Linked DNA regions of Homo sapiens. The protein of the gene in region 1 purifies or fractionates together with the protein of each later gene. This does not show direct contact. Each region holds a gene or a part of one and is shown on either strand. Other genes may lie near its edges. The genes, in order: NUP214, RANGAP1 and MX2.

Region 1 (3,651 bases):
CGAACATGGGGAGAATGATGGATTGCACTTTTAACCTTTTTGCATGTCTCCATATTATAGCAATCATGTTTTACATCTGTAATTTTAAAAAAAGAACACGATTATTTGTTAAATGCCAACAAAATCTGTGGAAAATGCAGAAATGTATATAGAAGTAAACAGCCTTAAAGTCACTACTCAGAAATATTTAGCTTATGAACCTATTTCTCTTTTGGATTTTTGTCCTTCAGCATAGATTAATTTCAAATAATTATAAAGCTACATTATATATAGTTTTATTTACTTTTGTGGGGAGGGGGCTTAGCCTCACATTATAAGCATTTTCCCATACCATTGAAATATATAAGAGTGTACTTTTAAAACTGTACATTTAAACTATACTAGAATTATTTTGATATATTTTCTGTAAAGGAGAAGATGGCACACCTTAGACTGGAATTAACATTGACAGAGCCACGGAGCAATTTCAGAGACCTCAAACACAAGTGAGGCAACGTGCTCACTCCCCATGGCCACTGACGTGTCACAGAAGGCACATGTGGTGCTAAGCAGCACCTCACAGGCTGAGCTACAGGGAATTATACACTGGAACAGTGTTTCTGTCTTTTTGTAATATTCTTTTTTTTTTTTTTTTTTTTTTTTTTCCATAATTTCAGGGACAGCCAAGATAGAAACAGCTGTGACTTCAACCCCATCTGCTTCTGGGCAGTTCAGCAAGCCTTTCTCATTTTCTCCATCAGGGTCAGTAATGAACTTAAGTTTTATGGCAAATTACTAGCAATTAGCTTCCCCAAATCTTACAATTATAGATATATTTATTTACTTATTAAATGTGTATGAACCCAGAGTTCTTACCGTGGCAGTAATACATGTGATGATAGTGGCAATAGTTTAATGTTCTCATGTAAATCGATTTTCCCTTTGCAATTCAAGTTAATACTTGTTTGTTACATATTTGTGTATCTGTTTTGTTTTTTAGCCTAAGCCTCATTTTCTTTGAGTAATGAGTCTGCTAAATTCTGTAGTTCATCTAGTTTGTCACACTGAGATGTTTCCATTCTGACACCATTTTGGGGGCTAGATGTGACATTCAAATTGACTTTGCTGGACAAACATGGTGGCTCATGCCTATAATCCTAGTGCTTTGGGAGGCCAAGGTGGGAGGGATTGCTTGAGGCCAGGAGTTGGAGACTGACCTGGGCAACATAGTGAGACCTCATCTCTACAAAAAATTGAAAAATTAACCAGGTACGTTGGTTCACTTCTATAGTCCCAGCCACTTGGGAGGCTGAGGTGGGAGGATCCCTTGAGCCCGGGAGTTCGAGGTTACAGTGAGCTATGATCACACCATTGTACTCCAGCCTGGGCAACAGAGTGAAACCCCGTCTCCAAAAAAAAAAAAAAAAAAAAAAAAAAAGGCTTACTGCATCGAGAGTACAGTATACTAAACTTAGAGAATGTAATGAAAGATAATAGGCATTTGAAATTTGAGGTTTTATATAGATGTGGAGGAATCTGTTTCCGTTTCTTTAAAAAATAATAATAATAATGATGGCTGTACTTGTAAAGTTGAGTTGTTTTTAAAAATGAAAGAATCTTCTATACCTTATCTCAAGATGAGCCTTTGTTAAGGTGCCTGTTCTCTGTGCCCTGAGCGCTCATGTTGAAACCTGTGTGAGCTGCTGAAGCATTGGGTTAGACTCTGTGGAACTGAGATCAAAATGTGTCAAAAGGATTTTTTGCCATTGAAGCATTGTGCATTCAGTTCCTTAGAAAAGCCTCTTAAGTTCTTCAGTTTATGCTTTTGTAACTAGGAGCATATTAACCAGTCTCTTTTTCCTGATTTTAATATATTTTTTGAGTGTCCTTCAGCCTAAGGAGAAAAGAGGGTATTAGAATATTATTTGAGGGGGAAAGTAATACATATATTTTTTCTTTATTATAAATCATTATGTTTTATGCTTCCCAAAGGTAATTTGCAGCAAATTTTAAAGAGTAGGTCAATGCCAAGAATTATTGCATCCTTTACAGATGGCTAATAATCAGTCTTCTGTGAAATGATATTCTTCTTCCTTTTCTTTTTTTTTTTTTTTTTTTTTTTTTTTTTTTTTGGATTTTCAGGCAGAGTATCACTCCGTCACCCTGGTTGGAGCGCAGTGGTGAGATCTCAGCTCACTGCAATCTTCACCTCCCGGGTTCAAGTGATTCTCTTGCCCTAGCCTCCCAAGTAGCTGGGATCACAGGTGTGCACCACCACACCCAGCTAATTTTTGTATTTTAGTAGAGATGGGGTTTTTTCATGTTGCCCAGGCTGGTCTTGAACTCCTGGCCTCAAGTGATCCACCCGCCTTAGCCTCCCAAAGTGCTGGGATTGTAGGCACGAGCCACTGCACCTGGCCCTCTTCCCATTTTTAAAATAACCCAGAAAAGGTGGGGTCATTGAATCAATGGCTTGACACTATTAGATAAAATTTTTTCACTAAGAAAGGTTGTGTTTTTTTTTTTATTTTTAATATGATGGGCAAAGGTGTCTAAGTTATTACATTATTTAGTATATTTGATGTGCTTGGTTCGTTATATTTTAAAGCTAGTTTGAAATCTGCAATTTGAACTTTGCGTGTGTGTGTGTGTGAGATAGAGCAAGATTCTGTCTCAAAAAAAAAAAAAGGTGCAGTGGTACAGTCATGGCTCACTACAACCTCCACCCCCAGGACTGAAGTGATCCTCCTGCCTTAGCCCCCCGAATAACTGGGACTACAGGTGCGCGCCACCACACCTGGCTGATTTTTGTTTTTTAATTTTTCGGTTTTGGTTTTTGGGGGTTTTTGTTTTTGTTTGTTTGGTTTTTGGGTTTTTGTTTTTGTTTTGTAGAAACAGGGTTCCACCATGTTGCCTAGGCTGGTCTCAAACTCCTGGGCTCAAAGGATTAACCTGCCTCAGCCTCTCAAAATGCTGGGATGTGAGCCACCATGCCTGGCCTGAGTTTTTATCACAGTGAATAATCTGTTCTGATTCACACTCGCGTGGGATTTTCTTCCTTAGCTATGGTGTCTTCACTTACAGTGTAAAGAAAACGTACAAAAGGAGAGAGGAGATGGTGAAAGGAGTCACAAAGTTTTTGAACTAGATTTTCCTAGCCGTAAAACTCAGTTCTGTCAAAATGACTGAGTTAGGGCTTCTATTTCATTGTATCCATTGTTTTCCCTAGCAGTGTGGGGCTCTCTGACATGCTTGTTGGTCTTGGAGGGGTTCTGAGAGGCTCTCCCTAGTCTTAAGTGCTTCTGTCTTACCAGACCTTCCTTCTGTCCCCTCACTTAACAGACCATCTGCTCCGGCCACCATTCCCACATGCACATTTGTCATGTGTCTCTACTGCTGCAGCTTTGCTCATCTTGCAAGAAGTCCCCACTCAAACTTCTGCTACAGAAAGCCCAGCCATCCCCCAATGGGCTCTCAACTGCTATCCCTGTCGTATCTCACACACAAACTGCTTCTCTGCTTAGAGATCATAGAGTGGCCTTACTGCTTCTGAGATAGGTGCTTTGACTCTGTTGTCATTTATCTTCTAGATTGTAAATTCCTGAGGGCGGTTTGTATGAATGAATGATAAAATGGAATATTAAGAGGGCAATATTGTGCCTTGGTTTGTTC
Region 2 (3,651 bases), on another chromosome or scaffold:
TCTGCCTCCTTATTTTCTTTTTCTTTTTTCTTTTTTTTTCCTTTTTTGAGACGGAGTCTCGTTCCGTCGCCCAGGCTGGAGTGTGATGGCATGATCTTGGCTCATCGCAACCTCTGCCTCCCAGGTTCAAGTGATTCTCCTGCCTCAGCCTCCTGAGTAGCTGAGATTACAGGCGTGCGCCACCACACCCGACTAATTTTGTATTTTTAGTAGAGATGGAGGTTTCACCATGTTGGCCAGGCTGGTCTTGAACTCCTGACCTCAGGCGATCCAGCTTCCTCGGCCTCTCAAAGTGCTGGGATTACAGACGTGAGATACCACACCCAGCCATTCAGCATTTTCTTGACAGGCTAACTCATATGAGTTCTAGGGCTCTTGTTTTGGTCACCTCCTCTCCCAGGAAGGCTTCCTGGATTCCCCCAGCCACGATCCAGTGTGCGTTCCTCTGTGCTCCCGGAGCACCTGGTCCCTCCTCTATCACGGTGGTCCTCATCCTGCCTACATTCAAAGCCTATATTCCGTCTGCATCCCATCGGCCCCTGAGCTTTGGAGGAGAGGGCCATGTCCCAGTCTCCACTGTGACCCAGGACTGAGGGTTGGCCTGGCTTAACTGTGCCAAGGAATCTTCTGCTGTCTTCAGGTGCTCAGTGCAGCACAGGGCAATGGGGGGAGCGGGTGGTCCACAAATAAATACAGGAAGGCCAACCTGGGCACACTCCAGGTCAGGCCTTCTTAGTATTTTCTGTGCCATGAACCCTTCAGGCAGTCTGGTGAAGCCCCTGGGTCCCCTCCTCAAAAAATGTTTTTTTAAAATTTTAAGATAAATTACACAGAATTACAAAGGAAATCAACTCAGTTGGAACAGTTATCAAAACATTTAGGAAAAAACTCCAAACGCATGCTGTAGTGATATACAAACTTCTTGTTAATGCACCAAATAACAAGATCTAGGGGTGGGTCCACTATTACTGTAATTTTGATGTAGTGAGAAATATTTCTATATATCAGCAGTAACTATAACTTCATATGAAATACCTGTGATTTCCACTGGGGATAAAGTCACAAGATTTTCTTTTTATTTTTTTAAAAATTTTAAGCTGGGCGCAGTGGCTTATGCCTATAATCCCAGCACTTTAGGAGGCCAAGGCGAGTGGATTACCTGAGGTCAGGAGTTTGAGACCAGCCTGGCTAACATGGTGAAACCCCATCTCTACTAAAATACAAAAATTAACTGGGTGGGCATGGTGGTGCACACCTGTAGTCCCAGCTAATCGGGAGGCTGAGGTGGGAGGATCACTTGAGCCTGGGAAGCTTCAACTGCAGTGGGCTGAGATTGCACCGTTGTACTCCAGCCTGGGCAACAGAGCGAGACCCTGCCTCAATAAAATTTTTTTTTTTTTTGGGTTCAGGGACTACATGTGCTTGTTTGTTATGTGGGTAGTCACAGGCCTTTCTAATGCTGTGAGGTTTATTGTCTACATTTATAATCAAAGGTCACACTACATATTTTAGCTACATTAGTAATAAATAATAATGTTATTTTTTCCTCATCCATGTTCACAGACCCCTGAATTCTATCCACATACTGGGGGGGATTAAGAACCCCCATTCTAAGCCCACCAGAGGACACCTATGAAGGCTCAACACAACCACAGCGCACCCCCTCCTCCCAGTGCACTGAGGACAGCAGGCTGACGGCAGGGAGGGATCCAAGGATGGCAGTGAGGCCCCCACCAGCTCCAGAGGAGGCAGCAGGAGCTCCCCTGCAGCCAGGGGTGCAGGGAGACACAAGGCAGATCTCTGCGATGTTCACTTGGCACTGAAGCAGGCAAAGGGTATCTACAGACAGCCTCGATGGGCAGCCAGGACATTCCGGCCCGTATGAGCAATGCTCCTAGGATACTGTTTGCTGAAGAAAACATTTAAATTAAGAGAAGAGGGGCCGGACGTGGTGGCTCACGCCTGTAATCCCAGCACTTTGGGAGGCCCAGGCGGGCAGATCACTTGAGGTCAGGAGTTCGAGACCACCTGGCCAACATGGTAAAACCCCGTCTCTAATAAAAATACAAAAATTAGCCGGGTGTGGTGGCGGGTGCCCGTAATTCCAGCTACTCGGGAGGCTGAGGCAGAACTGCTTGAACCTGGGAGGCGGAGACTGCAGTGAGCCAAGATCACGCACTGCACTCCAGCATGGGTGACAGAATGAGACTCTGCCTCAAAAAAAACAGGAAAGAGAGGAGGGAGACAGACCCCAAAGTTTTCAGTCCTGTTAGGGGCAAGTGTAGCCTTCTGCTGGCACTCACGATCGGGGACTCAGCAATGTCCTGCGGGGATGGGGAGAGGAGAGTGGAAGAGGAGTGGGGATAAGGTCACCTGAGAGCACGTCATTTGGCACCTGAGCCCTGCGGCTGCCCCTGCCTATCTCCCTGTCTTGGAGGTCTGGTATGTTCCTTCTCTGTGCCCCACACCAGTGGCTGGGCCAGGCTACTGTCAGCACTCGCACCATCTCACTTCACCACTTCTGAGCCTGGCAGATGACACTCCTTGGTCAGAGTGGCCTGCCTGGCCTGAAGCCCCATAGGGGCTGGCTCACCAGTGGGAGCCAGTCACACACCTTTCCGGAAAGTCACACACCTTTCCAGAAATGCACGACAGGAATTCTGGCTCATTTTCGGATGGGTTAACAGGCTTGGAGAGGGCACGTGACGCCCCAGGTCTCTTGGTTGAGTGCCAGCCCTGGGATTAGCATCCAGAACTGTCAGCCTACTATGCCGAGTGCACCTCAAGGCTGCAGGGGCAGGATGGACAGAAACCACTCACCCTAAAAGCTTCTGCCAAGGCAGTGGCGCCATCATTCTCCAGACGGTTTCTGCCAGCCACAAAGACCTTCAGGGCCAGAGGCTTGCCTTGGGCACTGGATTTCCGGTGACATTCGGTCAGAGCTGCAGCCAGGATCTGTGGGGAAAGGCAAGGGGCCCTGGTCATGGGCAGGAGCCCCTTCTCCCAGCGGGGTGGCCACTGCTGCTGAACTGCTCTTCAACATCCCACGCCACCCATCGGTGCAGGTCAGGGGACGCAGGACTGCTAACAGCTCAACAGTCACACCTTAAATATGTCCAGCACTTCAGTTACACAAGGTTTTTATCTCTAATGCTGTGTCACACCAGCCTGAGAGGTTTAGCTTCACTTTCGAGACGGGGAGACCAAGCCCTACTCAGGAAAGGGAGAGACCACATGGAGTGGATGAACTTTTAGCCAGGTCCAGGGGAAGGACTTCCTAGTCAGCTCACTTCACTGTCTAAGGCCCTCTGCTAGGTGGGAAAATCATGGCTCCCATTTTCCAGCTGAAGAAACTCAGGGTAAGAGGAACGGAAACTTTCTTATGGTCAATAAACAAGTGGTGGACTCTGGACCAAAGCCCAAATCTTCCAGCTTCTCTTCCACGTTCCACAATGTCCAAGGGAGCCAGCTGCCAAGTCCACGGTCCAGACGAACCTGTCTGACACCTGCCTGTGCCTAAAAGCTGGCCAGGCACAGCAGGAGCTTGCCTGCTGGTGGTAAAAACCTAACACCCAGCTTGCCCTGTCCCTGGTGTGGTGCCAGGAAGTAGCTTCTACCCTGGTTACACCATTAGGAAAAGCACTGAAAAAC
Region 3 (3,651 bases), on another chromosome or scaffold:
TCCACAACAGGCACCATGGCCAGCTGGCAGCTGTGCACTCAATTCAACAGTGGCTGGAGAGCCTTCATGTGGGGCTGGCCCCCAGAGTCATCTGGACCCCTGCTTTGGGCACAGGCTTCCCTCCAGGCACTCAGGATAGCAGCCCTGAGGTACCCTGGGCTGCTCTGCGAATTCCTCAGGTGGGCATGGAATGCCATTTAGCCTCAAAACCAAGAAGCAAGGCCAGGCACAGTGGCTCACATCTATAATCCCAGCACTTTGGGAGGCTGAGGCAGGTGGATTGCTTTAGCCTAGGAGTTCAAGAGCAGCCTGAGCAATGGTGGTGAAAACCTATCTCTACAAAAAAGTACAAAAATTATCTGGGTATGGTGGTTCATGCCTGTGGTCCCAACTACTCAGGAGGCTGAGGTGGGAGGATCACTTGAGCCTGGGAGGTTGAGGCTGCAGTGAGTCATGATTGCGCCACTACACTCCAGCCTAGGCAACAGAGGGAGACCCTGTCTCAACAAAACAAAACAAAATCAAGACACGAGGACATCAGAGGCAGTGGAATTGCCCTGTGTTGAGTTGCTGAGGTCGATGCCCCATATTTCTGGGTTTTGTTCGTTGAGAGACAGTTGCTGATTACCAAGGGTTCCACGGTCTTGGATGGACGTGTTCCACTCTTGGCACACTTATCATGTGCTGGACATAGCCTCTGGTCTGGGTAAATACCACCCTGTTTTGCAGGGAGCCCTGCCCAGAACTTACCTTTTTGGGTATTAGTTGCAAGTATGCCTACCCAGTTTTTAAAATCCTCTCTGATTTTGTTGTATAAACGGGTCTCATTCTCCCTTACAACTTCTTCTCCTTCTACTAACTTTTCGATGTCCTGATTAAACATCTTGATTTTCTGAAAATGATATAAAGTCAATAGTCTTTGCGGAAATCATATGAAAGAACTGGGACCGGCGTTGCAAGGAGATGTCCACCCGCCCACCTCATCTCATGGGTGAAGAAGGGGAAGGGCAGCTGCAGGGCCACCAGGGAAGGATGCAGTGTCACGTGGAGTCCTGCGGAAATCCTCACCTCAATTAGAAAGAACATCTTGTCGGCCTCCTGGCTGGGGATGTCAGCCCCGCAACGCCGCAGCTCCTCGGTCGCCTTCTGGTGGCTCTCCCTTATTTGTCCTTCTAACAACGGGAGCGATTTCTAAACAAAACAATTGCAAACAATCAAACTGCGGCTTAAGAGATTGGCCAACTGATTTCTTTGGTATATGAGTAGGAGCCCTTTAAAGCATCCAGGAAGATCTGGAATTTTTGACCCACCTGCCCCAGCCTCCCAAAGTGCTGGGATTACATGTGTAGGCCACCTTGACTGGTGGAATCTAATTGTAACAAACTTTCCAGGTAATTCTTGTGTGCCTTAAAGTTGGAGAACCACTGGCTCCTTCAAACCAAATTTTCTTTGAGTATGTGCTTCCTGGCTCAAGTAAGTCATTGCTTTTGTCTGATATACAATTTAGCATGGGCCAAGTCCTAGGATCTGGAATCATCTTTGCTCTAAGGGTACATTTAAATCTTCCCATGTTGCTTGGCCTCATTTGTGAAGGTTTAGGCAAGCACTAAAAATATTCGATTTCTCAATAACCGCCAAACCAAAGTTTTTCTATAATCGATGATGTCATGAGGCCCTTGTCTGTAGTTGTCTGCTTTTGAGAATCCATAAAAATGGACTTATTTCTTACAAACCAATTATTTCTTAGAAGTTTGAGGCTAGAAGAAATTTTTTTTTTTTAGATGGAATTTTGCTGTTGTTGCCCAGGCTGGAGTGCAATGGCACGATCTTGGCTCACCACAACCTCCACCTTCCGGGTTCAAGCGATTCTCCTGCCTCAGCCTCCCCAGTAGCTGGGATTACAGGCATGTGCCACCATGCCCAGCTAATTTTGTATTTTTAGTAGAGATGGAATTTCTCCATGTTGGTCAGGCTGGTCTCGAATTCTTGACCTCAGGTGATCCACTGGCTTTAGCCTCCCAAAGTGCTGGGATTACAGGCATGAGCCACCATGCCTGGCAAGAAAAATTTTTTATACCAGGAAGTATTAACAACATATTGAAAAAAGAAAACTTGCTCTCTCAGTGGTCACTCCTTTTTATATTGCTAAACTGTTTCCTTCTCTTCTTTTTCCCCCCTGTTGACCAATTCAAACATTTGTTTTAATACTATGTACTTGTTGCTTCCCCAATTTGGAAGTTCTTCCAGTGAGCCTGTGACAGTGAGTGAGACAGTGTTCAGAGGGTACTTGTTTGCTTGTTTGGACAGATCAGTGGGGCATCTTAGCCAACTCCAGACCAAGAGAGTGACTTGGGCATGCTGTATTGATGACTTGTCACCCAACCCACGTGGCTCACTTGGATATGCATGATGAGTTCAGTGGTAAGTCTTTCTGCCAGTCGGGGAACCGTGGCTGACCCCTCCTCCAGGAGAACTCTGAAATGAGACAGACATTCATGCATTCAGGAAGGACTTGTGTACCATCTTGCTAGTACCGGACTTTGTGCGTGGTAGGTGAGCCCAGCTCCCCGGGGCAACACGTGCCATCAGAAAAGCCAAGTGGTGCATAAGAAAGACACTTGCCACCAGCCTGCACCCAGGCAACTGTGGGCCAGGAAGCTTCCTTCCCTCCTCCCTTTCTATCATCCCCACAAACTCATGAGGTAGGTCATCTTAGCTACAGGAAAACAAACCCAGCCTCATGGAGATTAAGTGAGTTGCCCAGATTAGTATTTTATTTCTCATCACAAAAGTATATATGGTGCTTACTAAGTGCCAGGCACCAATCTAAGGGCTTTATAAATATTAACACATTTAGTCATTTAACAACCCACTTTAGAGCAAGAAAGGCTGAGACACAGAAAGGTTAAGCAGCTTGCTGCATTTGCTTGCTGCAGCCACACAGCAGGCAGCGTGGCTGCAGCATGTTTGCCAATAGCAGGAATTTAGGATGAAGCACACAGGATTATTCCCCAGCACTGCCAGTGCCTCTTACTGCAAGGGACGGCTCCCAGCAAGCAGGCATGCAAGGATTTCAGATTTCCCAAAGACCTTGAGAAGCGGTTTGCAAAGGGAGGTCCCTGGACTGGCAACATTAGCCTCAACCAGGAGGAACCTGTTAGAAGCAGGAAGTCTTGGGCACCTCCCCCGGCCTCAGGGCAGAGCAGGACAGAGCTAGCACAATTTTAAGGAACTCTCCAGAGAGTCTGCTGCTCACTCAGCATGGAGAACCATGGGCCTGATTATTTTGAAATCTTCTCCCAGCTCAAGGAGGAGAGTTTTCTTCTCCTCATGTCCTCCAGTGCTATTGGAAACAGTATGTTTCATCCACTCAGAGCAGGAGCAGAGAGGAAGAAAGAAGGAACCGGGTGGTGTTTACTGAGTGCTGGCTGTTGGCGCTCAAGACCTTTGTGTATGTCGTGTTACGTAATCCTAACCACAATCTTGTGAGGCAGTAGTAGGATCCCCTGGAGAAGATGGGAAAGGCAAAATTCCGAGAAGGTGGCCCATATTGTAAGATCACATAGTCAGCAAGCCGTAGACCTACTCGGCCCAAATTCAGTTTTCCCATTAGCTCTCCTTCAAGCAGGAGTGACCTCTGTGCTCCTGGAT

Evidence for each region.
Region 2: the proteins of NUP214 (region 1) and RANGAP1 purify together in Homo sapiens (affinity purification with mass spectrometry, with the first as the bait; one large-scale study listed by BioGRID). This does not show direct contact.
Region 3: the proteins of NUP214 (region 1) and MX2 purify together in Homo sapiens (affinity purification with mass spectrometry, with the first as the bait; one large-scale study listed by BioGRID). This does not show direct contact.

The regions. Positions count from the first base shown.
Region 1 is NC_000009.12:131,191,552-131,195,202, forward strand, and holds part of NUP214 (nuclear pore complex protein Nup214), read left to right. Parts: intron 1-656; coding exon 657-741; intron 742-3,651. UniProt on the Homo sapiens protein: Part of the nuclear pore complex. Has a critical role in nucleocytoplasmic transport.
Region 2 is NC_000022.11:41,258,626-41,262,276, forward strand, and holds part of RANGAP1 (ran GTPase-activating protein 1), read right to left. Parts: intron 2,956-3,651; coding exon 2,821-2,955; intron 1-2,820. UniProt on the Homo sapiens protein: GTPase activator for RAN. Converts cytoplasmic GTP-bound RAN to GDP-bound RAN, which is essential for RAN-mediated nuclear import and export. Mediates dissociation of cargo from nuclear export complexes containing XPO1, RAN and RANBP2 after nuclear export.
Region 3 is NC_000021.9:41,396,437-41,400,087, reverse strand, and holds part of MX2 (interferon-induced GTP-binding protein Mx2), read right to left. Parts: intron 2,476-3,651; coding exon 2,397-2,475; intron 1,192-2,396; coding exon 1,069-1,191; intron 893-1,068; coding exon 751-892; intron 1-750.